Regions from separate parts of the Homo sapiens genome. Here regions 2, 3, 4, 5 and 6 are each reported to be linked to region 1. The links are microRNA targets in miRTarBase. Many come from high-throughput screens and were not tested one by one. Region 1 holds a microRNA gene; each other region holds the end of a gene's coding sequence. Distances are from middle to middle.

What was found. Region 1 holds the annotated microRNA hsa-miR-767-5p (UGCACCAUGGUUGUCUGAGCAUG, at 3,560-3,582, shown strand). A microRNA usually pairs through its seed, bases 2 to 8, with sites in the 3' UTR of a target mRNA and lowers its output. Matches are read on the target gene's strand: a 7mer-m8 pairs with bases 2 to 8, a 7mer-A1 pairs with bases 2 to 7 and ends in A, and an 8mer does both.
Region 2: the mRNA of PAX5 is a reported target of hsa-miR-767-5p. Seed matches in the 3' UTR shown: 7mer-A1 at 1,048-1,054 and 7mer-A1 at 2,326-2,332.
Region 3: the mRNA of RLIM is a reported target of hsa-miR-767-5p. The part of its 3' UTR that is shown has no 7-base or 8-base seed match.
Region 4: the mRNA of TLCD2 is a reported target of hsa-miR-767-5p. Seed matches in the 3' UTR shown: 7mer-A1 at 2,265-2,271.
Region 5: the mRNA of FBN1 is a reported target of hsa-miR-767-5p. Seed matches in the 3' UTR shown: 7mer-m8 at 961-967.
Region 6: miRTarBase lists OIP5 as a target of hsa-miR-767-5p. The part of its 3' UTR that is shown has no 7-base or 8-base seed match.

Annotation. Positions count from the first base shown.
Region 1 is chrX:152,391,987-152,397,062 of GRCh38, reverse strand. MIR767 (microRNA 767) reads left to right here and starts at 3,534; the gene lies at 3,534-3,642. The region is part of intron 1 of GABRA3 (gamma-aminobutyric acid type A receptor subunit alpha3); the gene reads left to right. It overlaps MIR105-1 (microRNA 105-1), which reads left to right and starts at 4,764; the gene lies at 4,764-4,844. It overlaps MIR105-2 (microRNA 105-2), which reads left to right and starts at 2,571; the gene lies at 2,571-2,651.
Region 2 is chr9:36,836,067-36,841,142 of GRCh38, reverse strand. PAX5 (paired box 5) reads left to right here. Exons shown (of 10, transcript NM_016734.3): 10 at 507-5,076. The coding sequence ends at 583. Among named protein-coding and RNA genes, the nearest start is that of MIR4475, 15 kb to the right of the region's middle.
Region 3 is chrX:74,587,169-74,592,237 of GRCh38, reverse strand. RLIM (ring finger protein, LIM domain interacting) reads left to right here. Exons shown (of 4, transcript NM_016120.4): 4 at 1-5,069. The coding sequence ends at 798. Among named protein-coding and RNA genes, the nearest start is that of RLIM, 25 kb to the left of the region's middle.
Region 4 is chr17:1,703,316-1,708,391 of GRCh38, reverse strand. TLCD2 (TLC domain containing 2) reads left to right here. Exons shown (of 4, transcript NM_001164407.2): 4 at 170-5,076. The coding sequence ends at 622. Among named protein-coding and RNA genes, the nearest start is that of TLCD2, 4.5 kb to the left of the region's middle.
Region 5 is chr15:48,406,218-48,411,280 of GRCh38, reverse strand. FBN1 (fibrillin 1) reads left to right here. Exons shown (of 66, transcript NM_000138.5): 66 at 1-2,968. The coding sequence ends at 291. Among named protein-coding and RNA genes, the nearest start is that of DUT-AS1, 77 kb to the right of the region's middle.
Region 6 is chr15:41,305,049-41,310,124 of GRCh38, forward strand. It overlaps OIP5 (Opa interacting protein 5), which reads right to left. Exons shown (of 5, transcript NM_007280.2): 5 at 4,225-4,801. The coding sequence ends at 4,706. OIP5-AS1 (OIP5 antisense RNA 1) reads left to right here. Exons shown (of 5, transcript NR_152821.1): 3 at 3,519-3,576; 4 at 3,672-3,793. Among named protein-coding and RNA genes, the nearest start is that of OIP5-AS1, 25 kb to the left of the region's middle.

The sequences.
Region 1 (5,076 bases):
TAACATGATATGTTGCGTGATTCTATGGTTATCTTTCCCTGAAGTATTGCCCTTTGTCACTGTAATATGATTCTGCATGCTTAGGTATCCAAGCAAGCACCATGGCCTTCTGATCCTGAATTATAAGTATCTGCTCCTATATAAGAAGAGTTTATGCACATGAACGTGAACCATGTTTATGATGTCATATGTCATGATTTTCAAGCATGTTAGTTATATTTGCCCATGTATCAAGCCAGAGCCAGTGACTTCTGTGTTAGGTGCAATTTACCTTGTTTAAAGTTTATCTGAACATTTACCATGATGGTATACACCTGTCCCGGAGCTTAAGGCTATTGTGTTGTGATTTCCAACTCATGAATTATTTTCTTGGCATGTTGCATTGTTTAACATATCAATGTAGTATCCTCATGTACAATGTTGACTATAGTCACAAGGTATTTGGATGATTCTACTACTCTCTACTTCTAATAATAGATGATTGTGAGCACACTGTACTATGGCTGTCAGTTCATACATCATGACTTCCTGATAATATTTAGGGGTTTTCTGAGTGTGATTTTTGTTCAGGTGGTAAAACTACAGGGGGAGATATTTATACACCATGCAGTCATTTAAACATGTCTCAGAGTCCTTTTGTAACAATGTCATCTGTATTTGTTTCCCAAGGATGCCACAACAAAGTGCTTTAAACTAGGTGGCTTAAAACAACAGAAATGTTTTTCTCACAGTTCTGGAGGCTAAAAGTTCTAAATCAAAGTGTCAGTAAAGCCGTGCTCTCTCTCGAGCCTAGCAAAGGAGTCATCCTTGCATTTTTCAGCTTCTGGTAATCCCAAGTGTTTCTTGGCTTGTGGCAGCATCACTCCAATCTCTAACTTCATTGTCATATGGTTTTCTCTCGTTGTCTGTTATATCTAAATTTCCCCCTTCTTATAAAGACACCAGTGATTGGATTTAGGGCTGACCCTAATCCATTATAAAGGCATCTTAACTTGATTACATCTACAAAGACCCTATTACCAAATAAAGTCACATCCACAGGTACTGGGAGTTATAACTTCAGTGCCCCTCTTTTGTAGAACACAATTCAACCCATAATAGCATTTACATTTGGAGACATTTGCTTTTATGTTATAGCTTTTAAATTAGGCATGTGTTCATCCGAGGAAGCACTACAGCTTAGTTCTCTGTTCATATATCACTGATGTTTGAGATTGATCTGTGATTGACCAACTTCTATGTCATGGTTATCACACTGTGCAGCATGTTACTAGCTCATATATCAGTCATGTCGGGCTCCTACTTCAACATTGCTTTTTGCTCTTGTACTATATCCAACTGTTCCTGTATTTTGCGTATTTACAGCGATATAGTCTTGGGATATAGTCTTCTCTATTATCATTCATTACCTCACATTTTATGGTTGTTAAGTTGTGCACCATGATCAGATGCTCAAACAAAAGAGCCATCTGAGCATATGGCATGAGGTGTCATTTTGCACCACTGTCATCTTATCCTTAACTGAAAACTTGATTCAGTATTGTGGATATCGGATAGGGACATGCGTCTGAATGGATACCACTCCTGAAGGATAGCCAACTGCTTGTGTATTTTATGTGTATACTAATTGATTCTCTGTGTATACATCATAGATATTGCTCACCCATCATTAATGTGTAAAAAATAAACATAATCTCCTTCTGTGTGGAGAATGATAACTTTAATAACATGAATATTAGTTCCTGAATTGTGGTCACTGGCTCCTGCAGAATGGGTATTTTCTCCATATTTGCTGTCTGTTCCTGTATCATGCTTACTAACTGTATCATAGCTGTTAGTTTGTGTAATGGGATCGTTTGGATTTATATCATGCCCAAACACAAATGTGTAGAGTCAATCACCATGGTTATTTTTTTTATGAGTCATTATGTCCATGTGAGTCTTTTTTTTGTACCACTGTCATCTTCTCTTGGGCCAAAGTCATTAATTGCTTGCATGGTTATTTTTGATTACATACCATATCTACCCAAGTAAGAATCACACCATGTTTTATTTCCATATCATGTCCATCTGCACCTGTGTCATAATTGATAGCCTATGTCCTGTAGGTGTCTGACTGGACCTCATGAACACATATTAAAACATGCTTTTTGGCATCTTATTCATCTGAACATCCTGTATTATTTTGATCTTCTTTTTGACAAAATGCCATACATACCCGTATTTTTTGTATCACCTGAGCAGTTTTTACTCTGTGATTCTTTCCTGGGATACCATATCTATCCCCTTTTTCATGTATGAATTGACCTATTCTCCATGATAATATAAACATACATAATGAATTTGTGCTCATATACTGTGATTGAAGTTGTACTACGTATTTAAACTTAAACACCACACTTGTGTGAAAATACACAATCATTGTCTACTTGTACTGGGAATGAGTATTTTGTACTATGTATATTAATTTCTACACCATGTCTTTCACTATTGTGATGAGTTTTCTCTGTCCTTTGTCATCTGTCTACTCCCTATAACCTGGTATCAGCTCATGTTGCAGATCTTCTGTGTGTGCATCGTGGTCAAATGCTCAGACTCCTGTGGTGGCTGCTTATGCACCACGGATGTTTGAGCATGTGCTATGGTGTCTACTTTTGCAACATTGCCATCTGCTTCTGGAACAAAGCCACTCATTTTTCTGCTCTGTTTTAAAATCTGGTATCATGTCTGTCAGAAGAATCACAGCATATTGTCATTTATTGTCATATTTACAATAATGGATAGTGGAGCCAAAATGACTGAATTTGAATCCTGGATTATCCACTTACTAGCTATGAGATCTTGGACACATCAGTTCATGAAATGGACACATCAATTCGTATCTTCATGCTTCAGTTTCCTGCAAAATGACAAAAAAAGTAGTAAGGTTATTGTGAGGATTGTATAAGCTATTATACATAAAATATTTTTAATACTGCCTGGCAGGTAGTGATGATGATGATAACAATGATGATGATGATGATGACATGACAATGATGATAATGATACTGTGTCCCTTGATCGTGTATAATAATTGTCAGCTCAAATTCTGGAGTTCTCTAAGTGTGCATTATGGTCAAATGCTGATACTTGTGATAGTGTTTAAAGCATCATTATATAAGTATATGCCATGGCAGTCATTTGAATCGTTGCCATCTGTAGTATTCTATTAGCTACTGCACTATCGTTTTCTGCTATTTTATTATCAGCATCTTCTTCAATATCCTTGTTCATCTGCTCCTATATTATGGTCATCAGCTTATTTTTGTTGGGATATCTGGGTGTACATCGTGGTTTAACAGTCAAATATTAGTGTTAGTTGCTCATGCACCATGATTGCCTGAGTATGTGCCATGATATCTCCTCCAGCATCATTGTCATATGCTGTTTGCCTAAATAAGTTGTATTCATGTGTTATGTTTCCTTTATTCATATGTCCTGTCCATCTGGGCATATTCCTCATTGTGTTATTCACTCTTGTATCACACCCACCTGCTTTTATATTGTAGGTTTTTGCTCATGCACCATGGTTGTCTGAGCATGCAGCATGCTTGTCTGCTCATACCCCATGGTTTCTGAGCAGGAACCTTCATTGTCTACTGCTTTACAGGGAAATAGTGTTTTATGCATCGTGTATATGAGTTTAGTATTTACTCATATTCTATGACTCTCTACTCTTAGATCACTTCTGCCTTTTTCTGCACATTGTTTATCTGTTCCAAAAAGACAGATGTTATCTCATGTCACTGGGCTTTCTAATTGTACATCAGTCAAATGCTTAAATGCCTATGATGTGATGGCTGTTCATGCAACATGGCTGTTTCAGCATATATCATAACTTCACCCGTTTAATCATTGCCATCTTCTCCCAGACTAAAGAAAATAATGATTTTTAATCACCAACCATATCCGTTTTGGTAATCATGGTTTCATGTCTACCTGCTCCTGTATCATTCTTTTACTTTATGTCGTGGGATTGTGTAGGTAGCCATCATAGTCAAATGCCCAAATACTAGTGGTGGCTGTTCATGCAATGGTCATCTGAGTATATGGTGTCAGGTCTCTTTTGACATATCTGACATCTACTCATGGACAAAGCTGTTTACCCCTGTACCGTGGCTCTTGTATAAGGCACAATATCTGTCTAAGTAAGCACCACAGCATGGTTTTATTCTCCGAAAACAAGTTTGTGTGCTGTATCTATCTATGCCTCTTAGCTCCTTTGGCATAAATGCTACGTAATAGTGTAAACTACTTTTGTGTACCTGTGTAAGTCAAGATCAAACAGTCAAATATCACTAATGGCTTTCATCAACTTTTGTCTGAACATGTTACACGGTGGGTCCTCTATGCACCTTTGCCACCTACATTTGAAATAATCATTCATGTATTGAGATGTTTTGATCTTGTACTATATCCATCTATGAGGTCTCCACTTATGATTATTTTCTCATAAGATGTCTCTTGGCTCTAAGTGAGCCCTGGCTAATTTTCCATGGTTGTATGAATGTGCTTATGCCCTTTAGCTATGGTCTTCTGCTCATTCATCATGATTTGTGAAAATGCACCATCGTTGTCTACATTGTACTAAAAATGGAATTTTCTGTACCATGAATATAATTTTGTGCACCATGATTTTTTGTCATACAGTGTGTTTGCCTCCTTCTTCGTCCTCAGTATCTACTCCTATATATTGGATGTCAGCTTCTGTTGCAGAACCTGAGTGTGCATCGTGGTCAAATGCTCAGACTCCTGTGGTGGCTGCTCATGCACCACGGATGTTTGAGCATGTGCTACGGTGTCTACTTTTGCTACATTGCCGTCTGCTTCTGGACCAAAGCCATTTGTTCCTGTGCTCTGTGTTTCTAATCTTGTATCACATCCATATGAGGAAGCATGGCACCATCAGTGTATGTGCACAATGCTCACTGCTTGGACTTAAATCCCAGTTCTCCTATTTAATAGTTTGAAATTCTTGAGGAAGTCATTTCACCCTTCTGTTTCTGTTTTCTAAACTGTAAAATAAATAATAATACC
Region 2 (5,076 bases), not on the chromosome of region 1:
TGCTGGCTGGGGATAGCTCACAGAGCACCTGCAGGCCAAACAAAGGGAATGCTTTTCATGTTTTTATCTTCTAGGTCAGGGGTTGGCAAATGATTTCTATAAAGAGCCAGAGAGTAAATATTTTAGGCTTTGCAGGCCACAGTGTCTCTGTTGCAACTATCCAACTCTGTCGTAATAGCAGTAAAGCAGTAATGGGCAATGCCTGCATTCATAGGCAAGACTGTGTTCCAGTAAAATGTTATTCACTAAAACGGGCAGCTGGGAGGATTGGACCCAAGGGCCCCAGGCTCCGGACCCCAGCTCTAGATGGCGAAGAGCCTCGAAATCTTATGAGCAGGTTGTGGCCCTGATGGGACTTGCCATCTGGGGAACAGACTGGGACAGAGATCTTGGTGAGAGAGGATGGTGGCCCGGACTGAGTGAGGGGAGGAAAGGACAGAAGTGGAGGAGACTGGTGGAAAGGGGACCCCGGATCTGACCTCGGTGCTCTCTCCCGTCTCTTCCAGGCTCCCCCTACTATTATAGCGCTGCCGCCCGAGGAGCCGCCCCACCTGCAGCCGCCACTGCCTATGACCGTCACTGACCCTTGGAGCCAGGCGGGCACCAAACACTGATGGCACCTATTGAGGGTGACAGCCACCCAGCCCTCCTGAAGATAGCCAGAGAGCCCATGAGACCGTCCCCCAGCATCCCCCACTTGCCTGAAGCTCCCCTCTTCCTCTCTTCCTCCAGGGACTCTGGGGCCCTTTGGTGGGGCCGTTGGACTTCTGGATGCTTGTCTATTTCTAAAAGCCAATCTATGAGCTTCTCCCGATGGCCACTGGGTCTCTGCAAACCAATAGACTGTCCTGCAAATAACCGCAGCCCCAGCCCAGCCTGCCTGTCCTCCAGCTGTCTGACTATCCATCCATCATAACCACCCCAGCCTGGGAAGGAGAGCTTGCTTTTGTTGCTTCAGCAGCACCCATGTAAATACCTTCTTGCTTTTCTGTGGGCCTGAAGGTCCGACTGAGAAGACTGCTCCACCCATGATGCATCTCGCACTCTTGGTGCATCACCGGACATCTTAGACCTATGGCAGAGCATCCTCTCTGCCCTGGGTGACCCTGGCAGGTGCGCTCAGAGCTGTCCTCAAGATGGAGGATGCTGCCCTTGGGCCCCAGCCTCCTGCTCATCCCTCCTTCTTTAGTATCTTTACGAGGAGTCTCACTGGGCTGGTTGTGCTGCAGGCTCCCCCTGAGGCCCCTCTCCAAGAGGAGCACACTTTGGGGAGATGTCCTGGTTTCCTGCCTCCATTTCTCTGGGACCGATGCAGTATCAGCAGCTCTTTTCCAGATCAAAGAACTCAAAGAAAACTGTCTGGGAGATTCCTCAGCTACTTTTCCGAAGCAGAATGTCATCCGAGGTATTGATTACATTGTGGACTTTGAATGTGAGGGCTGGATGGGACGCAGGAGATCATCTGATCCCAGCCAAGGAGGGGCCTGAGGCTCTCCCTACTCCCTCAGCCCCTGGAACGGTGTTTTCTGAGGCATGCCCAGGTTCAGGTCACTTCGGACACCTGCCATGGACACTTCACCCACCCTCCAGGACCCCAGCAAGTGGATTCTGGGCAAGCCTGTTCCGGTGATGTAGACAATAATTAACACAGAGGACTTTCCCCCACACCCAGATCACAAACAGCCTACAGCCAGAACTTCTGAGCATCCTCTCGGGGCAGACCCTCCCCGTCCTCGTGGAGCTTAGCAGGCAGCTGGGCATGGAGGTGCTGGGGCTGGGGCAGATGCCTAATTTCGCACAATGCATGCCCACCTGTTGATCTAAGGGGCCGCGATGGTCAGGGCCACGGCCAAGGGCCACGGGAACTTGGAGAGGGAGCTTGGAGAACTCACTGTGGGCTAGGGTGGTCAGAGGAAGCCAGCAGGGAAGATCTGGGGGACAGAGGAAGGCCTCCTGAGGGAGGGGCAGGAGAGCAGTGAGGAGCTGCTGTGTGACCTGGGAGTGATTTTGACATGGGGGTGCCAGGTGCCATCATCTCTTTACCTGGGGCCTTAATTCCTTGCATAGTCTCTCTTGTCAAGTCAGAACAGCCAGGTAGAGCCCTTGTCCAAACCTGGGCTGAATGACAGTGATGAGAGGGGGCTTGGCCTTCTTAGGTGACAATGTCCCCCATATCTGTATGTCACCAGGATGGCAGAGAGCCAGGGCAGAGAGAGACTGGACTTGGGATCAGCAGGCCAGGCAGGTCTTGTCCTGGTCCTGGCCACATGTCTTTGCTGTGGGACCTCAGACAAAACCCTGCACCTCTTTGAGCCTTGGCTGCCTTGGTGCAGCAGGGTCATCTGTAGGGCCACCCCACAGCTCTTTCCTTCCCCTCCTCTCTCCAGGGAGCCGGGGCTGTGAGAGGATCATCTGGGGCAGGCCCTCCACTTCCAAGCAAGCAGATGGGGGTGGGCACCTGAGGCCCAATAATATTTGGACCAAGTGGGAAACAAGAACACTCGGAGGGGCGGGAATCAGAAGAGCCTGGAAAAAGACCTAGCCCAACTTCCCTTGTGGGAAACTGAGGCCCAGCTTGGGGAAGGCCAGGACCATGCAGGGAGAAAAAGCAGACTTCCTCTGGCCACCGCTAAGTATTTTGTTCCCTAAGTCCCCCACAGGGTGGTGGAACAGAAGAGAAAACTAAGGCTCAGCAAGGTGGAGTCCTCAAGCAGTGACTGGTGGGGGTGGGGCTGGGACTCGGGCTCCTGACCCCCAACCCATGGTGTTCCCTGTCACCCTGGTCTATCCACATCTCCTATTCCTGAGGAGAGTTGACAGTAAGAGCAGTGAGAGATGGTTCTGGGCCCCATGCCCTAGACAATCAGTCTGTAAGAACTGCCAAGGAAGCCTGGTCACCCAGGCCAGGGATGGAGCCCAGCGAGCTCACAGCAGGCACATGCACCCCCGCCCCCACCCAGAACCTGCGGGGCAAAGAAGGGAGGTAGTTGGGGCCAGAGTCCACCTCCAGGAGCCAGGGTGAGCTGGCTGCAGCTTCCACCTGTCAGGTAAGGTAGGAGAAGGTATGTTACCTGGCATCTCTCTCCCTGCCTCCCTCCATTTAGCAGGAAGTGGTGGGGTCAGGGGTCTTCAGCACAGACTTCTTGAGCCTCTGCCCCCTGTCACCCTTCTTTTGGAATGATGTGTACCCACATCTTTGGATCCTGCCCTCCTTGTGGTTCCAGGCTGTTGGGAGGAGGTCAGCCTCCCCTGAACCAGCTGCCTGAGGCATGCAGCATCCTTCCTCGGCAAAGCCCACCTGGCTCACAGCGGCCCCCTCTCCCCATCCTGTTCCTCTTCTTGCCCTGTAATGAGCTCCCCCCATACCTTTCCTCCCTCACCTGAGGCTTTGCTGGTCCTCAGATTGGTTTTGTATTTGTGAGACAACCACTTGACTCCTGGGCTGCCAGGCGGAAGCACAAGCGCACATGGATGCACACGGATGTTCTCACACACACACGCCCGCTCTCACCAATTCACAGCACCTCGTGGTCCAGCGGAGCTGCCTGGGAGCTTGGTGAGGATGGCTCCAAAGGACACAAGCCGTTGAGTAGATGCCAGAGAATTCTGAATGGAAAACACAAGTCCGGGGCCTCACCAGCATCGTGGCAGAAGGCCTGGGGCATTTCTCCATGGGCCTTCTTCCCTGTGTTCGAGCTCTGACTTTTGGAAAAGGACATTGTGGATTTTATGAAAATTTCTCATACCATCAGTCTAGCTCCAACCTAGAAAAATTGGATGATATATCAAACCCAACATCCCTTTCCCAAGGCACCTTAGTTAAGGCTAGCCCTTCCATAACTGACATTGTACGGTGCTTTGCAATCCTCAACCACTCTGTGGAGCAAAGAGCATGATGCCTACTTTATAGACGGGGAAATTGACATTTGGGGCTCTCACGGCAACATAGAGGCGAAGTGAATTCTCAGATCTCCAGGCCCCATTCTCTCTCCACCGAGTTGTGCTCCTGTCATGGGAGTGTATGGCTTAAAGACACTCCCCCACCCCCATTCCCTAGAAATCCCCCAGACCCACAATCAGGCAAGAAAGAACAGGGACCCAGAGGCTGGCCTGACCTAGGGGCCTGCAGGTTGGCGGCTTTGTTTCCTAAGAACATTGAAACCTGCGGAGTCTTTGACCAAATCCACAACAGTGCTTCTGAGGTTTCATCCAGACTCTTTCCCAGCTGTCCCTGAGGTTCAGAGGGTATCAGAGTCAATTCAAGGCCATGCCATAATCCCTGACCAGGCCTGGACATGGGTCCAGCCCTGACTCCAGGGGTCCAGGTGCCAAGGTCATGTGCTGTCCCCCACTTCCCTTTCTTTGCCTTCGCACTTTGGAACAGGCTCCAGGCCTGGCTGTGACAGTATGCAGGAGTGCCCAAGCCAGGGCCACCAGGGTGTCCACAGCCCCTGGAAACACAGATCACAATCTCAAGTCCCCTGAATGAACTGCTTCCTGGGTGAACGGGGTGGTGTAGCCTTGCCACTCGGGCAGCGCACCAGACAGTACGGTGCAGCAGTGCCCGAGATGCCCAGAAGTGTGCCTGCCCCCCTGAGTGGCATTCAAGTATGAAAACTTGTAAAATTTTCTGTCGGCCTAAAGAAAAATGTCCATGGGCCAAACTTGACCCACTGGGCACCAGCCTGTGAGCCCCAATGCCTGTCAATTGCCCCCTTTCTCATTCACCTCCTGTCCTTTGTTGCAGATTTGGAGGAGATGGGAGCCCAGAGAGGTGAGAGATGTGCTTCAGGGTGTCCAGCAAGGCAGGGGTAGAAACGGGCACGCCCAGAGCCTGCCACTCTCCCAGGCCTCATCTTGGGCTCTTGCAAGTCTTGCGCTTTGAAGATGGAGTTGGGTGGAAGGTCAGAGGCGCTGGGGACGGGATTGGGGAGCTGCTGGGTTTTCAGGGGAGGTCAGTGCTGCTTGGGCACCTTTCACATGTGCAGGGAAGAGACTCAGATGTGGCCACAGGGCACTGAGGGGTGAAATCCATTTACCAGAAGTCACGCTCCAGAACGACTGCCCAGCCTTGGC
Region 3 (5,069 bases), 78 Mb from region 1:
CGAGGAGGTTTTAGGCGTACATTTTCACGTTCTGAGCGGGCAGGTGTGAGAACCTATGTCAGTACCATCAGAATTCCCATTCGTAGAATCTTAAATACTGGTTTAAGTGAGACTACATCTGTTGCAATTCAGACCATGTTAAGGCAGATAATGACAGGTTTTGGTGAGTTAAGCTATTTTATGTACAGTGATAGCGACTCAGAGCCTACTGGCTCAGTCTCAAATCGAAATATGGAAAGGGCAGAGTCACGGAGTGGAAGAGGAGGTTCTGGTGGTGGTAGTAGTTCTGGTTCCAGTTCGAGTTCCAGTTCCAGTTCGAGTTCCAGTTCCAGTTCAAGTTCCAGTTCCAGTCCTAGTTCCAGTTCCGGTGGTGAAAGTTCAGAAACTAGCTCAGATTTATTTGAAGGCAGTAATGAAGGAAGCTCATCATCAGGCTCATCAGGTGCCAGGCGAGAGGGTCGACATAGGGCCCCAGTCACATTTGATGAAAGTGGCTCTTTGCCCTTCCTTAGCCTGGCTCAGTTTTTCCTCTTAAATGAGGATGATGATGACCAACCTAGAGGACTCACCAAAGAACAGATTGACAACTTGGCAATGAGAAGTTTTGGTGAAAATGATGCATTAAAAACCTGTAGTGTTTGCATTACAGAATATACAGAAGGCAACAAACTTCGTAAACTACCTTGTTCCCATGAGTACCATGTCCACTGCATCGATCGCTGGTTATCTGAGAATTCTACCTGTCCTATTTGTCGCAGAGCAGTCTTAGCTTCTGGTAACAGAGAAAGTGTTGTGTAATTAAGATCTGAACTCTCAGCTATGTAGCTGATATAGTGATGGGCAAACAGGAATCACTTGCTTTTATGTCCACTTTTTGAGTGGTACTTAAATGTAAAGTAACAACCTGAATTGAGTCATTGCTTTCTGAAGGAATCATTGTCCTTTCTCCAGTTTTTGTTCCAGAATAAAAGGAAATATTTTAAAAGCCACGTTATAGGACCTAAAAATCTGATTTCCGTACCAGTTAAATTGGTAGCATCACTGTTACTGATAATTTATCATATACACTTGTCAATTTTTCCTTTGTTATCTTAAAAGATCTGCCTTAGCAATGGCTCCTTTTTCATGTTGATCTTTAAATTTTCCCACACCATAAGAGAGGAGCAAAGGAAATTACCAGTTTAGACTAAGTTACAGTATGTGTTTCATAAGTGATTAAAGCTATATCATTCCCAGTTATTAGTTAACACAAATTCAGCCACATTCTGAGTATTGTTTGTTCACCTTTCAGACTTGGTGATACTGGACATGTCAGTGTAAATAACACTAAGGTTAGGATCTTCTAAGTGTATAACTGTCTCCTAAGCCCATCACTGTGGCACACTGTAGAGTGAGCTTATAGTTTAATTGAGATATTTATCTTGTGGAAATATTAAAAAGCCTATGCTTGTGTAAGTGAAAAAAAATCACATTCATTTGTTTAAAAATGTAAAGCTATTTTGTAGAGGCTCAGTACTTTTCCAATGCACTGTTGTATGAATGCATTAAAAATTGTAAAGTACCATGCTTAGAACTGAGAAAACTGCTTTTTGTGAGCCAACATAGTAACAAACACACCAAACAAAGTACAAAGCTGCTTTTGTAAGTGTGTAGATGTCAAGAGCAGAACATATCTATAATATTTAATGTGTGAACAGCTACTGTGACATGCAAAGGAAAGGACAGTGCAGAATTAAACCGTGTTGAAGACCAGTGGAAATTGTATAATTTAACTTGGATTTAGGCAGGAAGTGAAATATGGGAGGAGTAAAGAAAACTGAAGAATTTAAAGTTTTCCTGAAGACAGTAATAATGCAGACACAAACTGGTTTCATATGGTGAGAGCAGCCACAGCAGCAGCTTGACCTGGTATTCTACCTGAGTAGATGAAGCAGAAGATCAGCAAGTTTGGCAGAGTTTTGGTTTAAGAAAAACAAACCACTACTACCTAGCACAAGTTAAATTTACAAGTCTGCTCCTCAAAAATGAAAAAATGGAGGAAAGAGACTATAAAACCACTTTTAGCATATGAATTGCAGTTGGTACACATGTGTGTGTTAATAGGAAAGTCTCGAATTTGTGTTGTTTTTGAGATTTGTCATTTAAGGTACCAGTGCACACTTGATCATATTTCATTACTATCTCTAACACAGTCCTAACATCTCAAATTTAAAGACCAGTTGAAGATTAAGGGATTTTTATCCTTTGTTGAAAGTCATGTTGGGTTATTTGAAATTCAAATTTTAATTGTGCTGCCCATATATGAAAATGAGACTGCTGACTCGCTATCTATGGACATGCACTTTATGTTGGTTTCTTAGTAGTAAGAGTAACTTCATGATAACCCCAGTCTTCTTGCCTAATTTCTTTTTTGAGACTAGCTGGGGTTAGGATTAGAATGACTATGGAGCAGATATTTGTTCTTCTGGGAAAAGCTTTAACAGGCCAAAATAGGGATTGAACTTGTCCTTGGCCTTTATCAAAGCAAGCTAGCTACCCAGACGTAGTCAAATACTCTACAAAATAAACAAGTCTGCTTTAGGAATTGTCTGGGTACCTTCACTGTTACCAACTTAGCTGTAAAGATTATTTCAAAGCTCACTCTTCCATGATTTCTTCTGGCTTTCAATCCTATCTAAGTATCAAGGAAATTAACTTGTAAATATGGTAGTTGTTTACTAAGGATATGTACTGCTCTTGCAAGGAAATAATGTCCAAACAAAGCTTCACTTATTTTTTTTAATATAAGCAGATTTCACTGTTTATGGCGCTTATGTAATACATTTTATCTTTTTAAAAATTTGTCCGTGTAAAAGTCAGGATTCCTTTATATTTGTGAGCCTCCTTTTCTCCTTTCCTAAGGATGTAATCTACAGTTTTCAGATCTGCAGGGTAGTCTTGATTGGCTAAAAACAAATCAATTTTCTTCTTGGCATAAAGTGTTTCATTATTATAGGGGTGTTCATTTTAAATAGTTTAAAAACAATTGCAGCACATTCTAAGCATAAGAGAAAGTTATTGACAACAGGTACCTTCCTAATCTCCCAAGACGTACTTACTCATTTGTGAAGTATTAAAGTAAGAGGTAACTCAAGCAGAATGCTGGCTATGAATGTAGATATTGAAGCTATTCATAAACACTGGAAATAGAATTTTAAGCTTTTAGCCTTCAGTGGAATGCACATATTGGACATGTGCATGTGAACACCTTTTTCAGTAGCACTCACGGATTTCCATTCGATTGTATAGAATGAATACAAGTGTTTTAGTGGAATTTGCTACTTAATTTTTAATCTTGCGATGTCCGTGATTATTACATGCTTACTAGTGTTGTGGACATTGAAGACAAGGTCATTCGTAGGTGTCAGATTACAATGGAGAACAAAAATCGTTTTCCCCCCACCCACATCCAAACACCATTCTCGAGGGAGCATTTCTTGCAAAACACCTTACATTTCATTTTCTATCTTTGCACTTTTTCTTAAGTACAGAAAAGTTGTCTTTAAGACCTAGTTTGAACTTCATGCAGTAAGAGGAACAAGGATAAACAATGTTGGGAGTTCACATTGTTCAGAGCATAAGGAAAAGTACCAAAACCCAAATTTTCTTGAATATTTCAGATGTTTTTAAAAACTCACTTCTAGTCTGAAACATTTGAATTGTTTTAACTCTGAGCAGCTGACAAAGTTGAGGTTTTTTTGTTTTGTTTTGTTTTGTTTTGTTTTTTTGAGACAGAGTCTTACTTGGTTGCCCAGGATGAAGTGCAATGGAGCGATCTCGGCTCACTGCAACCTCTGCCTCCTGGGTTCAAGCAATTCTCCTGTCTCAGCCTCTCGAGTAGCTGGGATTACAGGCGCATGCCACCACACCTGGCTAGTTTTTATATTTTTAGTAGAGATGGGGACTTCACCGTGTTGGCCAGGCTGGTCTTGAACTCCTGACCTCAAGTGATGTGCCTGCCTCGGCCTCCGAAAATGCTGGGATTACAGGCGTGAGCCACCATGTCCAGCCAAAGTTGAGGTTTATTAGTACTATTAGAAACAAAATTGAGCAAGTTAAGTTAAAAGTTTGCTGACTTTGTATCAACACTATAGAAGATGAGCCACCTTGTTAATTTGGAATATTTGCTCTGAAAAGAACATGTTAGTTACACCTTAATGGTGTTAATGGAGGTGGGGATTGAGAAAAGTGTTCACATTAGTGTTGGAATGTAGGTAATTGTACAGTTTATAAGACCTTTAGCACCAGGAAATAAAATATGTGTGTGTACACACACAGTTTTTAAAAACGATTGGAATTCATCCAAACCTTAAGATTAGGAAACTGATTGGCTGTAAGTGTTGCCTCAAGTAATGTGTCCCCCGCCCCATAACATGTCTTTTCTGTGCCAAGTATCCTCTCCTAGTGTCAGTGTCTCAAATTATATTTATGAAGGGTTATCACATAATATGCTTTGTATTTAACTACCTGCTTCCCAGGCGTCCATGACATGAAATGGGTGAAGCATCAGCCATGACTTTCGGTCAGTTCCCAAAATACCCAAATGATAGGGAGGTAAAGATTGCAAAATTCCTCTTAAAAGGCCATTTTTACAGCTTGCTAAAATACAGTGGCACCTTATGGTTGTTAATATTTTTTCTTTTAAAGATGGAGAATGTTTTTATTCTTCCCCTTTTCTCCTTTGTTCTTTTGCGAACAAAAAAAATTATAATCTGCCTTATTTGATTTTTTTTTTAAGTTTTACCTTACAGGCTTCCCTGTCACATGTTTTACCATATTAAGTACATAGAAGCCATGTTTGCAGGGCACTTTTATTCTCCTAGTCTTATAAGACTATGCTAATTGTTACTTTCTGAAGTATTCTGTACCTTAGTATGCAAGATTGTTAAGGCACATGTTAAAGTGTCAGGTGTGTTTTTTTCCCTTTAATTCTTCAGTATGTTTATATTCAATAACAGTATTGTAATTCATTGAGTTAACTAGTAAATTGTGTGCTTTTGAAAAAACATGAAAAATGTAAATTGACAGCA
Region 4 (5,076 bases), not on the chromosome of region 1:
GGTTGTTTCAAGGCTGCTCAGGGCCCCAGGATAAAGGTAAAAGCATAAAGGTCAGGTGTTTGGGGAGCCCCACAGACTGCGTGGAAGCCTCTTTCTTCAGGCCTGGGTTATTGGGACATGATGGCTGGCAGGTCATGGGGTTCCTCTGACCTGTGACCCTGGCTCCCAGGTGGTGAGCTGCCTCAGCACCGCTGTTCTGTCTGGCCACTACGTGGGCTTCTCCATGGTGTCTCTGCTCCTGGAACTGAACTCTGCCTGCTTGCACCTGCGGAAGCTGCTGTTGCTTTCTCGCCAGGCCCCATCCCTGGCCTTCAGCGTGACCAGCTGGGCCTCCTTGGCCACCTTGGCCCTCTTCCGCCTGGTCCCGCTGGGGTGGATGAGTCTGTGGCTGTTCCGGCAGCACCACCAGGTTCCTCTTGCTCTGGTCACCCTGGGTGGAATTGGGCTGGTCACTGTGGGCATCATGAGCATCATATTGGGGATCCGTATTCTGGTCAATGATGTCCTACAGTCTCGACCCCATCCACCCAGCCCTGGCCATGAGAAAACCAGGGGGACCAGGACACGTCGTGACAATGGACCTGTCACCAGCAACAGTTCGACTCTCAGCCTGAAAGACTAGAGAGAAGCCATGGGCCCCTCGCTGGGGGAGGTGGGGCCAGGACAAGGAGATGAGGGTCTTCCATGCACAGTCCCCCATCAGGGTGAGGGCCAGACTTGCTCATCAGAATCTCAGTTTCTCTTCCAGCTAACTCACATCCCTTCCCCTTCCTCGGATCTAAGAAGAAATGCTGATGTTGGATGGGTGGGAACCTGGGTTTCTGTTCACTGAAATCCGTCATCAGATGAGCATCCTTTCCAGCAAATAAACTCAAGAGGTACAGCTAGAGCTATCAGTAAAGGGTGGCAGGAGGCATGCAGCTGGAAGAAACTGCCAGTGGAGACAGAAGCTCTTTGCTTTAACCCAGGGACAGATGGGGGAAGGTGAAGTCCCACTAGGATCAGAGAGATCTGGTATGGGGCGGGTGGGGACAGAGAGAAAAGAGATCTCACCTATAACCAAATTCTGGCAGTGGGAGGAAGGTAGAGGAGGTGCTATCTGTAGCAGCAGAGATGGACGTGATAGTTGCCAAGAGACAGAACCTGGGCCACAGCAATTGCTGCTGATGTTTCTGGTTCTCAAAGCCACACTCCTGTTTTTCTTTTTCTTTTTCTTTTTTTTTATGAGACGGAATCTTACTCTGTCACCCAGGCTGGAGTGTAGTGGCACGATTTCGGCTCACTGCAACCTCAGCCTCCTGGGTTCAAGTGATTGTCCTGCCTTAGCCTCCCGAGTAGCTGTGACTTCAGGCATGCACCACCAAGCCCAGCTAATTTTTGTATTTTTTGGTGGAGAGGAGGTTTCACCATGTTGCCCAGGCTGGTCTCGAACTCCTGACCTCAAGTAATCCACCTGCCTCGGCCTCCCAGAGTGCTGGGATTACAGACGTGAGAACAGGCGCACACTCCTGTTTTTCTCCTTAACCCTGGTCCTGCTGTGTCTAGCCTTTTATTTTTATTTTTATTTTTAGTATCTTTTGACTTTTCTTTTTTCTTTTCTTTTTTTTTTTTTTTTTTTGAGACAAGTTCTTGCTCTGTTGCCCAGGATGGAGTGCAGTGGCTTGATCTTGGCTCACTGCAATCTCTGCCTCCCAGGCTCAAGCAATTCTCCTGCCTCCCACCTCAGCCTCCCAAGTAGCTGGGACTACAGGTGCACGCCACTGCACCAGGCTAATTTTTGTATTTTTTTGTAGAGACCAGGTTTTGCCATGTTGCCCAGGCTGGTCTCAAACTTTTGCACTCAAGTGATCCACCCACCTCAGCCTCCCAAAGTGCTGGGATTACAGACGTGAGCCACCGTACCCGACCCCTTTTGACTTTTCAAAGACAATTCGGATTCTTAGAGGAATGAACACAGGGCTGGTTTGTCTTCTTAGGACGGCACTGAAGTCTAGAATTACAGAAGGAAAGGTGCCCAGTACAGAGTTTTCCCAGGCCCAGGCTTTCATGGAAGAACAAGGGCAGAGGTAGACTGTGTGAGAGAAGGCTGCAGGAGGATAAAGGAATAGCTGGCCCTCTGGCTGGGCGCAGCAGCTCACGCCTGTAATCCCAGCACTTTGGGAGGCCGAGGCGGGAGGATCACCTGAGGTCAGGAGTTCAAGACCAGCCTGGTCAACATGGTGAAACCCTGTCTCTACTAAAAATACAAAATTAGCCGGGCATGGTGGTGCATGCCTGTAATCCCAGCTACTCAGGAGGCTGAGGCAGGAGAATCGCTTGAACCCAGGAGGCAGAGGTTGCAGTGAGCCGAGGTCGTGCCACTGCACTCCAGCCTGGGCAAACAGAGTGAGACTCTTGTCTCTAAAGAAAAAAAAAAAAGGAAGAGCTGGGACTTTTCTGAGATACATTCATAAAGTCTTCTTCCTCCCTGCTGCTTCTGCTGCGTTTTTTTCTGTTGAACAAGACCCCTTCCTTCCCAGAACATCGAGGTGACGGGAAGTGCCCAGCAGATTAAGTCTGCTGTTCCACTAAACAATGGACTGAGAGAGGCAACCCTTAGCCATCCACAGAAAAGCTACATGAGCAAAAGCAAGAGACAGGAAGATTGTCTTCAAAAAAAAACAAAACAAAACAAAAACCTTGCTAAGAAGCGGAGGTACAGAAAGATACGAAGAATGACAGAGACAGACATACATAGATTGAGTGATAGATAGAAAGAGAGAAGGATTATTCACATAGAGGTGACAGAGGCAAAGAAGGATGGAGGGCAAAAGAGACAGGCCCTAGCAGAAATATGGAGAAAGGCTGTCATAGATCCTGAGAGACACCAAAGTCACAGAACTGATAAAAGGGTTATAAACAAAAAGGACCAGAAAAATAGAAATGAAGGCCGACAAGAAGAGACCCCAAGGCTGAAAGGCACAGAGAGTCTAGACAGTGAAATAGAGTGAGTGACAAGGAGAAACACCCAGGCTCAGGAGTGATGGAGGAAATACTGGCAGATAGAGAGATCAGAAGAGCAAGAGGAGAGGTGGGAACAGAGAAGAGCGGGGACGAGTCCGGGGAGCTGAGAAGCAGAAGGCGGAGGAGGCAGTCAGTGGGAAGATTCACTGACAGAAGAGACCAGGAGATATGGGGACTTGGAGGCAGGCAGAAAGACAAAGGACAAACAGCTGCAGCGCAAACCCTAAAGACAGGCTGACAGTAACCGGTCGGCAGAGACTGGTAGGAAGATAAGGACAAGTCAGAATCAGGGGTGTCAACTGAGATGCAAATATAGGCAAAGGAGCTGACAAAGAGAATCACAGAGAGAAAAAAAAGGAGGAGAGCACAGAACAATTTAAATATCCAGGCTGGGCATGGTGGGTCACGCCTGTAATCCCAGCATTTTGGGAGGCCGAGGCAGGCGGATCACGAGGTCAGGAGATGACCATCCTGGCTAACATGGTGAAACACCATCTCTACTAAAAATACAAAAAATTGGCCGGGCGTGGTGGCAGGCGCCCGTAATCCCGGCTACTGAGGAGGCTGAGGCAGGAGAATCGTTTGAACCTGGGAGGCCGAGGTTGTTATAATGAGCCGAGATAGTGCCACTGCAGTCCAGCAGGGGTGACAGAGTGAGACTCCGTCTCAAAAAAAAAAATTGAATATCCAAAGAACAAAGAAGAGGCAGGAACCCAGAAATGAAAAGAGGAGGAAAAATACAGGTGTGAAAAAAAAATGAGAGGGATTGTGAGAAGTCTCCATCATAGAGTCATAAAAACAGGCGCAAAGGATGAAAATACATCGAGACTGAGGAAAACACAGTTGGAAGGAGCTAAACACAAGCAGAAAATAAGAGCAGAGCATTTAAATGTAATTAGATAAAAACCCAAGAGGCAAAGGTATAGATAGTGAGCTAGAGAAACAATGCAGAATTTTGTCAGAGTCTGTACTTCTAGAAGTCATGTTTGCTGGCTGGGCATGGTGGCTCACGCCTGTAATCCCAGCACTTTGGGAGGCCGAGGTAGGAGGAGTGGTTGAGCTCAGGAGTTCAAGACCAGTCTGGGCAACATATTGAGACCTCCTCTCTACAAAAAAAAAAAATTTTCTTTTTTCTTTCTTTTCTTCTTTTTTTTTTTTTTTTTTTGAGACAGTTTCATTCTTGCTGCCCAGGCTGGAATGCAGTGGCACAATCTTGGCTCACTGCAACCTCCACCTCCTGGACTCAAGTGATTCTCCTGCCTCAGCCTCCCTAGTAGCTGGGATTACAGGTACCCACCACCACACTCGGCTAATTTTTGTGTTTTTAGTAGAGACAGGATTTCACCATATTGGCCAGGCTGGTCTCAAACTCCTGACCTCAGGTGATCCGCCCACCTTGGGCTCCCAAACTACTGGGATTATATGCGTGAGCCAACACACCCGGCCAAAAAAAAATTTTTAATTAAAAAAAAAAGTCATATCTGCAAAACTCAATTTGCCATCTTAACTGAATGCCTTGATTAACAAAAATGTTGTCTGCCTTGAGTTTTTAAAGAAAAAGAAATATGACAAACTCATGTGAGGAATCTATTCCTTAAATATCTGTTGAGGTTGATATGAATTGATTCTAAGTCATACACCTTTTCTTTGGCCACTGGTATACATTCATGATGGTTTGAGTGAGTGTCCCTTTTGGTAATACTTGATAGTGTCTATGAGGCCGGGCGTGGTGGCTCACGCCTGTAATCCCAGCACTTTGGGGGACCGAGGCAGGTGAAATCCCATCTCTACTAAAAATAAAAAAAATTAGCCGGGCGTGGTGGCGGGCGCCTGTAGTCCCAGCTACTCAGGAGGCTGAGGCAGGAGAATGGCATGAACCCGGGAGGCGGAGCTTGCAGTGAGCCAAGATCGTGCCACTGCACTCCAGCCTGGGTGACAGAGCAAGACTCCGTCTTAAAAAATAAATAAATAAATAAATAGACAGATAGATAGATAGATAGTGTCTATGAAGGCTGCCCAAGAACTTGACCATTAGGGAAACATGGCTGTTTCTGTGGATTAACTAGTCAAGCC
Region 5 (5,063 bases), not on the chromosome of region 1:
CGAATCCTAGAACTCCTTCCAGCTCTTACAACTCTGACGAATCACAACAGATACTTGATCGAATCTGGAAATGAAGATGGCTTCTTTAAAATCAACCAAAAGGAAGGGATCAGCTACCTCCACTTCACAAAGAAGAAGCCAGTGGCTGGAACCTATTCATTACAAATCAGTAGTACTCCACTTTATAAAAAGAAAGAACTTAACCAACTAGAAGACAAATATGACAAAGACTACCTCAGTGGTGAACTGGGTGATAATCTGAAGATGAAAATCCAGGTTTTGCTTCATTAATTCACCATCCAGAGACCAAATAATTAAAAGAAAAACAAATATAGATAGGTAGAACTATATTTTCCCCCAATCAGAATCATCATATCATAGGTACAATCTTTCACCAAGTAAATTTGTATAAATAAGCACTATTCTTTGTATTACCAAAGCAAGGTACAGGTGACTACCCTAGTTCAAAACAACCACTTTCTCAGGCTTCTCATGTGTGTAGCTAAGCTACCTTGTCATATGTGTTGATTCTTGAAAACTGGGACGTGTATTTCCATTGGGGGTTGGCCATTTATGCTGACATGCCATCCTTCCAGCAAACGTACGGGAATGTGCTTTCAATTGATGGACTACTCTATTTTTTGCAAATTTGTAAACTTTGCTTCTCCAAATACAAGTACTAGGTTGTCCATTTATGGTACCTATTTGGTGCTAGTAAATTTTCAAACTAGATTTATAAATGCACTGTAATATGTACACAACTTAGAAACCAAATTACAAGTATTCAGTTCCAATACTTCATTAATTTCAATCAACCAAAGTTAGTTCAGTAGCTTATCTCAGTTATGAGTATAATACATTACATGTAAATTAAGTGTGTGTATACTGTAATCGTGCTATTTTTTATCATTGAAACATTTATAAACTAGAATAATAATGCCCTTAATGTGAGGGTTTGTAATGGTGCTTATTAAGACCAAAGACTTGTTAAATGTATACACCAAGTGGTAATGAAATTTCGGTGACTGGCCCACACGTGCATAGAGGTCTGGGAGGACCAGGAAACAGCCTCAGTGGCCAGAGGATCACCAGTGCATCCTTCATCACAGCATGTGCAATATGCCAAGATTACCCTCGGTCATTCCTGTCAACAAGGGGTCAATGTCATAAATGTCACAATAAAACAATCTCTTCTTTTTTTTAGTTTACCCCTTGGCTTTGTGTTCTTGCATGGATTTGGGGTTGGAGGGGCCATTCCGGAGGCTAAATAAAGTCTCCTGGATTTAAATTATCCTGGGTCTCTTACTTATGGCTTATGAAAGTACCAAATGTATAACCACTAGAAGAAAATTTAACATATGAGTCGATCCCTTGTTTTATCCATTGAAAGTAGCAGAGTCTGGTGTCATTAACCTGACTTGCTTGTGAGAAATTTAGATTGTAGAGTCATTTCTGAAACATGACCTAATTCATCTTGTGACTTTTAAATAGTCTTAAATACCAAGTTCAGTCATTGTCTTAGAGCACATGAATTTCATTATAATAGATTTATCATGCCCCCCTCTCAAATATACACAGTTTTGGCAAGCCTTAGGTGTTCTGTTCCATTTTTTTTTCCCCTAAACATCTTTCGTTAGTCAATGCTCATCTAATTACAAAGGGATAATCCCAGACTGTATCCAATTGCTGTAACTTTTGGTTTCTTAATGTCATAATTTTTAAAGTCTGTTTTATTTTAAGTGCAATATTGAGTATTTAGCTGTTAGGCTCAATCCGTCGATATGAAATAATTTTTTAAATCCCTAAGGGCAGGAAAGCATTTCGTGGTAGTGAAAATAAGAGGAAATAAGATGGCATGAAGGTGGTGGGCGGAGAAACTAGGTAGGACACAGGAAAGTGCTCTCAAAAATCTTTGAAGAGCTCAGCTGAAAAAAATGGAGTAGATTTGGCTCATACTATTCCGGAAGGCAAAACCAGGGTCAGCTGATGTCAGCCCCAGTTTAATACACACGGTCCCAATTATAGAGCTACTCACTGAAAGAATGGGTTTCCTTGCATTGTGGTGAGCTCCCTGTCACAAGATAGAAGAGTTTCAGTCTAGGCTTAATGGCAACCATTGGACAAAGATGCTTTCTTCCACCTAACAGGCCATTAACATCTTAAAGGTATTTTTGTATCTCTAATTTTGTTTATAATAGGTGCTCAACAGAATGAGCTGAATGGCTGTTACAAAGGGGGTTTGTACCTTGGGTAAGAGATTAAAATATAACTCAAAATTTCCTTCTAACGCTGCACCTATGGAACCATGTGATAGAGGTGTATTAAAATTGTTATCGAAGAATATATAGCATATGGTAAACAACAGTTTGCATATGGAAAATGTCTTTGATAATTTAACCAGAACTGCATTATATTCAATAACGGATTTTCTTTATAACAAACAACAGGGGAAAATGGAGTTGGCACACAGTGGATCACTTTGATATTTTTAATAGTCCAAGTCTGGATTTTATTTATTCCTGAGCCAACAATTTTGAACAGCATATTTTCCATGTTTCTGACTGTAACAAAACATTTTCCTCATTGTTCCATTGTAAATATTCCTCTTGTTGGAACTCTTTTTAATCCTGAGATTTAAACCTGTACCTTTCAATTGTCTGTGACCTTTCAATTTCACTTTCAATAGTTGAAGAACTTGGCTTTGTAAATCTCTCAGAAGCTTGAAAATATCTTGTCTCTACCCCCTCAGCCCATTTCATTTGCCAATAATTATTTTGTAAGTAGGGTTGAAATGAACTCAGCTGGCCTTGTGAAATGTTTAAACTTGCACAAACAACTACATTTTTGTTCAACAAATAGCAGTTTACTCAGCCAAAATCACTTTGGATATTGCCATTACAAATACTGTTAAACTTCAGAAATCATGTCTGTAAATTAGATGAGCCAAAATAAAGGACAATTGGGTTGATGCTGCATTAGTATCCTTAAAAGTTATATACCCATAAATGTTAGGGATTTTAAAATTACCATCAACTTGGTCCACAGAATATATTTTATTCTGGTTTTAACTGTAGTTCTTAGAGAACTGTATTAGAAATGTAATTATTAGGAATGTAATTATTAAATGATTTAAGGACATTGTTTTTAAAGTTAGAAGATCATTACTGGCAGAAATATTAGTTTCACATTTATAGCTGAAGACAGATATTTACCCCTTGCCAATTTAAAATAACACTTTGTAAAAAAGAGAGAAGAAAAAAAAAACAATTTACTTCATTATGCTTTTTTTGAAACCCAGTATGAGCCTGACATTACGTATGAGTTAGGAAAGGATGATCTATATTATTCTGAGTGTTAGGGTTGGAGAGATAGAAAAGGGCTGTACACTTGACTTTGCAAATTTCCATGTATATTCATGACTGGTTTTATTCACAGGATTGGATCTCAGTTAAAGACATTCTCACAAATATCTGCATAAACATGAGGGTCTTGTACATTTGACATGCATTTGGCAAGACCTGACAAAAATCACAAAATCTGTTGTTTCAACTAACTGCTAATAAATCTAAAATGGTTTCTTTTTTTCAAACAAAGTCATAAACCTTGTTTTAGGACATAGGTTGCTTTGAATCCTTGATTCAAACCTGAATTATGGCTGGGCACTGTGGCTGATGCCTGTAATCCCAGCACTTTGGGAGGCCAAGGTGGGCAGATCACTTGATGTCAGGAGTTTGAGACCAGCCTAGCCAACATGGTGAAACCCCATCTCTACTGAAAACACAAAACGTAATCAGGCATGATGGTGCGCACCTGTAGTCCCAGCTACTCGAGGGGCTGAGGCAGGAGAATTACTTGAACCCAGGAGGCGGAGATTGCAGTGAGCTGAGATTACACCACTGCACTCCAGCCTGCATGGAAGAGTAAGACTCCATCTCAAAAGAAAAAGAAAAAAAAAATCTGAATTATAACTTCTACAAATGGATGTCAGTTTCATTTTTTACTGTTGGATGGTAGAAGGACTGAACCAAGTTATAGCAGGTAAGTGGATGCGATTTCTGGCTAGCTCCACCCTCTGCTATCTCTTCATTGTGATTTTTGATCTTTGTGACCATCCCCATTTCATAAATGAAGGCAAAATTATCCTCTCTGTGCTCCCCTGTGCCCCCTGTGGGTTGGTTATGGTGTCAGCTAGAAGGCATCAAGCCTTCCAAGTACTTCTGGAATCCATAGCTTGGGTTCAAATCTAAGCAACACAGAGGTGGAGATTTTAAGCAAAAAGCAGCTGCTCCATTGAGCATTTCCTAACTTTCATATCCCACCTGATGTATTCTTTGCAGCTGTGCTGGGAGTTGCAGAAATAAGAAGAGATCTGTTTCCTTTTTACCCTGAAATACTCTCTTGGGGAGAATTAAATCAAACCTACATGATCAACCTTTTTCTTCTCCTGGAAATGGAGACATTTGAAAACATCCTGATGATAATCACACATCCCATCAGTCCTACTAGACAGTGACAGAGGTCACAGGCCTTTGTAGTTGTGTCTACGTGGTGAACTCTGCTCTGCGTGGCCCCACCAGCTCTGCTATGGAGGCCAGACCTGTCAGAAAAGATTAATGAGACCTGAATATATCAGAATTTCCAAGGCTCAACAGACTAGATTGGGTTTGTGTCTGTGTATTTTTGTAACTACATGAAATCAGCACGATGTGCTGTTTAGCCTTTCTGTCTTCAGCTGTATGGAGATTATCCCTCTTTGGGCAGTCCCATGATCAGGCGGGGTGGCAAGCTCCTCCCTGAGGCCTGCTGCTTCCTGCGCCTTTGTGGCTTGGCTTCCGTGGGCTCTCTGGTGGGTCATTCACAGGAGGTGTGGTGCCTCCAGCTGGGGAGTCAGTGTGCTGTTTAACCAGCTCCCCAGGAGAAAATGGCTCCCGATCTCATGCCCACATGTTCACCCCCACAGGCCTCACCCCTACCAGGAGAGGACACGGAAGCCAGGTGCACCATCCTTAAAGGCTGATGCTTTCAGCCTTGATTTTTTTTTTTCCTAGCGTCAGTGATTCTTC
Region 6 (5,076 bases), not on the chromosome of region 1:
CAAAGTTTTATCCTTGATGGGTTTGGCCAGACTGCAATTTCTTGACTAAAGCTTTTAATGCCAGGTTAAACAGGAGAAACTTTTTCCACTAGAAGAAAATCCTTGCTATCTATTTTTTCCAATAGAAGAAAATCCTTGCTATTTATTTTATTTGATGAATAAACAAATTTATTGCAGTAGCTTAAAAAAATTTTTTTTTTAAACAGTCTCACTCTGTCGCCCAGGCTGGAGTGAAGCAATGTGATCTCAGCTCACTGCAACCTCCACCTCCCGAGTAGCTGGGATTACAGACATGCACCACCACCCTCAGCTAATTTTTGTATTTTTAGTAGAGACGGGGTTTCGCCATGTTGGCCAGGCTGGTCTTTAACTCCTGGCCTTACGTGATCCGCCCCCCCTTAGCCTTCCAAAGTGCTGGGATTACAGGTGTGAGCCACTGCACCTGGCCTGTAGTAGCTTAAAATTTTCCTTGAGAAAATTCCTGACTTTAAAAATAACCCTTATATAAGTACAAGTGATTGTGACAAATGACGTAAAAATGGCATTCATGATGTCTGAAACAAGCCTAAATAGAATTCAAGATTAGACTAAATGATTTTCACAAAGCACATTCAAGGTTTTACATTCTATGATTGAAAAAAATTTTTTGAAAACTTTTTATTTCATTCTTTCCTGTAGGATTTTGCTACAAATAACTTTGGGAATGAATAAAGTGGAATGGTAACTTTCCAGTGGTTCAGAATTGAATTAGACTTCTTGTGACTGTGATGTTTGGTTTCCATTGAAATATATGAAGTGAGATGTCATATCCTGAATATAGTTTGTCTTCCCCAATTACTTGATAGCATGTCTGTCAGCCAGTAAAGATTAAGAACAGAGTTTCTCTAAATTCCTCCGATTATTCCACTAAGGCACATTAAAATACTTAATTTTGGGAAACCAGACATCACAGATTTCTCCATGAAGTCCTAAATCTTCTTTAAAGTCAGAATAGGTATCTTAGTTACTGACAGTATTCAGGTTTTTTTCTCCCTTGGTGATATGTCATTCCATCAGTGAAAAAATATTTTCTCCCAGGGATAAGAAAGGTATTCTGGTAATACATTATCATCAATCCTTAAACAGTAACAGTCTTGGCACTTATCACAAAACCGACCCATTTCTTATAACCAGAAAGATTATCTTAGACTGTCCTTCACATTATACTTTACCTACTGCCTTGTAAGAATAAGAGTTGCTCACTGTGTTTACTTGCTGTCCTCCATATTCTCCATTGCACCATTGGTGTATAACGTTAAGAGTTTCATTGAATATTATTTTAAGTATTACAAAAGGCAGCTTGCTTCTTAATCTATGCATCTTTGGGGTTTTTGAAGAAATTTAATTCTTTGATGTAAAAAGGAACTGTTAAAAAAGTTGGAAGCTCTGCACCTGTGTATATATATATTTTAGCAATAAAGCAGCATGGGCTGAGAATGCACTGAAATCTCATTGTGTGTCGTTACTTGAAATGGGTAATTTTAAATAATGCAGTACATACTGATGATGGGAGAAGGAGCCTTTCCAAAGACCTGTGCCAAAGTACTCTTCAGATGTTAAAGAACAAAGGACCAGGTTACTTGAGACCTAGCTGTAGCAGTTTCCAGTGTGTTGTACAATGGAACAGGCAGCCATTCAAACCTCAATATGTAATGCTGCTTTTACAGCCATAAGGAGTTTTGGAATACTTTTTCTAACATATTTGTAATTGCCTTTATTTTGTGTCTCTGTGTATCCACATACATGGAGTTTAATAATAGTATTCATTGAGCACCAACTATGTGATAAGCACTGCTCTAATTACATTAGATGCATTAATTAACTCATTTAATGCTCACTACAGCTCTAATTACTATAGTTTTTATCCCTATTTTACATAGAAGGAAATTAAAACAGATAAATTGTTCCAGTTCATGGCTAGTAAGTACCCAAGCCACAGTTTCAATCCAGTTTGGTTCCAGAGCCTGCTCACTTACCAGGATGCTATATTGTGCTTCTCAAAAAATAGAAAGGGAAGAAGTATACTTTCACTCTGTATTTTGTCACACATCTCTTTTTTCTAGAGTGAGCATGTAATCTGAAAAAAATCTATTTAAAGCTAGCCAGTTTAATTTGACGTAAAGGTCAAGCATTTAATTTTATTTATTTATTTATTTAGAGACGGAGTCTTGCTCTGTCGCCCAGAGCAACCAGGGGTGACTCAATGTGGTACTTATTAGGTCTTTTTTTTTTTTTTTTGAGACGGCGTCTCACTCTGTCACCCAGGCTGGCATGCAGTGGCATGATCTTGGCTCCCCACAACCTCTGCCTCCCAGGTTCAAGCGATTCTCCTGCCTCAGCCTCCCGAGTAGTGGGACTACAGACACACGCCACATGCTCAGCTAATTTTTGTATTTTTAGTAGAGACAGGGTTTCACTATGTTGGGCAGGCTGGTCTGGAACTCCTGACCTCGTGATCTGACCGCCTTGGCCTCCCAAAGTGCTGGGATTACAGGCGTGAGCCACTGCACCTGGCCTATATTAGGTCTTATTCTTTAAAAAGTAAAAGCTTTTATTGGGCTGGTTTTTGCCAGAAAGCATCAACCTTGCTTATAGGACCAAATTTTTGCAACTCTACGCATAATCAGACCTGGCACAATGGCTCACCGCTGTAATTCCAACACTTCAGAAGGCTGAAGTGAGGATCCCTTGAGCCCAGTTTGAGCCCACAGTGAGGCCTTGTCTCTACAATTTTTTTTTTTTTTTTAATTAGCCAGGCGTGGTGACACAAACCTGTGGTGCCAGCTATTCAGGATACAGTTGGGAGGATCACTTGAGACCAGGAAGTCAAGGCTGCAGTGGGCCATGTTCACACCTCTGCACTCAGGCCTGGGTGACAGAGTGAGACCCTGTCTCACCACCCTCCCCTCAAAAAAAGCATAAGCAGGCCAGTCGCAGTGGCTCACGCCTGTTATCCTAGCAGTTTGGGAGGCCAAGGTGGGTGGATTTGCCTGAGCTCAGGAGTTCGAGACCACCCTGGGCAACACGGTGAAACCCCGTCTCTACTAAAATACAAAAAATTAGCCGGGCGTGGCGGCATGCACCTGTAATCCCAGCTACTCAGGAGGCTGAGACAGGAGAATCGCTTCAACACTCGGGAGATGGCAGTTGCAGAGATCAGGCCACTGCACGCCAGCCTGGGCGACAGAGCAAGACTCCATCTCGGGAAGAAAAAAAAAAAATTTATATATATATATTCTGCTAGCTACATCCCAGCCAAGTTAGCTTTTCTATCCTCCACCACTTGGATATGTAATTTCTTGATTGTGCTAGTGCCAAAGGCTCTCCTTAGTGGTCTGCTTGCTGTCCTTCCCACCTGTTTTCCACAGGACAACCACAGTGACATTCTGAAAAAGTAAATTTGATTAGGCAGGCCTTCTTTTAAGGACCTCATAAAGGTCATCCCTCCATCACCTTATTAATTCCTATTCGTCTTTCAGACCACCGCTGAAACTTCACTTCTACACAGAGGCTTTCTTTCCCAGAAACCCAGACCAGGTCAGTTACCTGCTTTATGTGCGTGTATCCCTATGTTCCTTTACTTCAAAACCCTTACTAGCGTCATAATTTTACATATCTTTTTTTTTTTTTAGATGGAGTTTCACTCTGTCGCCCAGGCTGGAGTGCAGTGGCACGATCTCGGCTGACTGCAGCCTCTACCTGCTGGGTTCAAGCAATTCTTCTGCCTCAGGTTCCTGAGTAGCTGGGATTACAGGTGCGCACCACCATGCCTGGCTAATTTTTGTATTTTTAGTAGAGACGAGGTTTCACCACGTTGGCGAGGCTGGTCTTGAACTCCTGACCTCAAGTGATCCACTGCCTCGGCCTCCGAAAATCTGGAATTATAGATGTGAGCCACTGCGCCAGGCCTGTAATTTTATGTATCTTTATGTGATTATTTGAATGTCCCTCTCTGACTAGATTATAAATTCTAAGGATAGTGTGTCTATTTTTGCTTACCTTTTATCCCCAGCACCTAGTCTAACACTTTACAAATATATATTAAATTAATATTTTGATAAGTTACTCAAAGTGCTACATAAAACAAAATTATAGAAAATAGTACTTTGGTAACTGTTTCGTTTTATCATTGCTTTCATTATTTCTCTGTTAACCTCAGTTTACAACTGAAAAAGACAAATTGTATATTATTCAGGCAATTTATTAAACATTACCTATAGAATATTATGATCTGTATTTTACAGAAGTTAAAAAGTGATGTATTAGTATTCATAACAACTGCTCCATGCAGGAGTAATAGAAGTCAACATTAAGCCCAACTCTATTTTCAGACCAACCATGCAACTTTAGATCAGAGGACACATGGGACTCTGCATCTTAATTCCTAAATTTACAGTCAAAGACATTTTCAGAGATAAGTATTATGAATTCAATAAGAATCTAAAGTAAGTTCTTAAGGCAAATAGCTATAAAAGAGAAGAATCCTTAGTCTCTCATCTTCTAAAAACAGCTTCACAAATAATTTGGAAAATCAGCCTAAAGGTAAATAGAAACTGCATTTCCCCTCCATTCTTGAAGCCAATCTTTTTCAAGAAATGACTAAGCAGCACCTGTTGTTGAAGACAGCAATAAAGCCTGAACCTGACACTCAAGCTTTGGTACAGGATCAGTTTTCTGGCTTGGACTGGTCAGGAGTCACTTCACTCAGAATCTTCATTAGTGATTTTAAGCGATTGTGCGTTAGCACTATCTTCTCTTTCAGCTAGGAAGAGAAATATATAGATATCAGGGCATCTTTTTTTATTTTTACTTATTTTAAGAGACAGGGTCTCACTCTGTTGCCTGAGCTGGAGTACAGTGGCACATTCATAGTTCACTGCAGCCTCAAGCTCCTGCTCTCAAGTGATCCTCCCACTTCAGCCTCCTGATTAGCTAGGACTACAGTCATGTGTTTTAAATTTTCTTTGTAGAGATGGGGGTCTTGCTTTGTTGCCCAGGCTGGTGTTGAACTCCTGGCAGTCAGTGATCCTCCCAAAG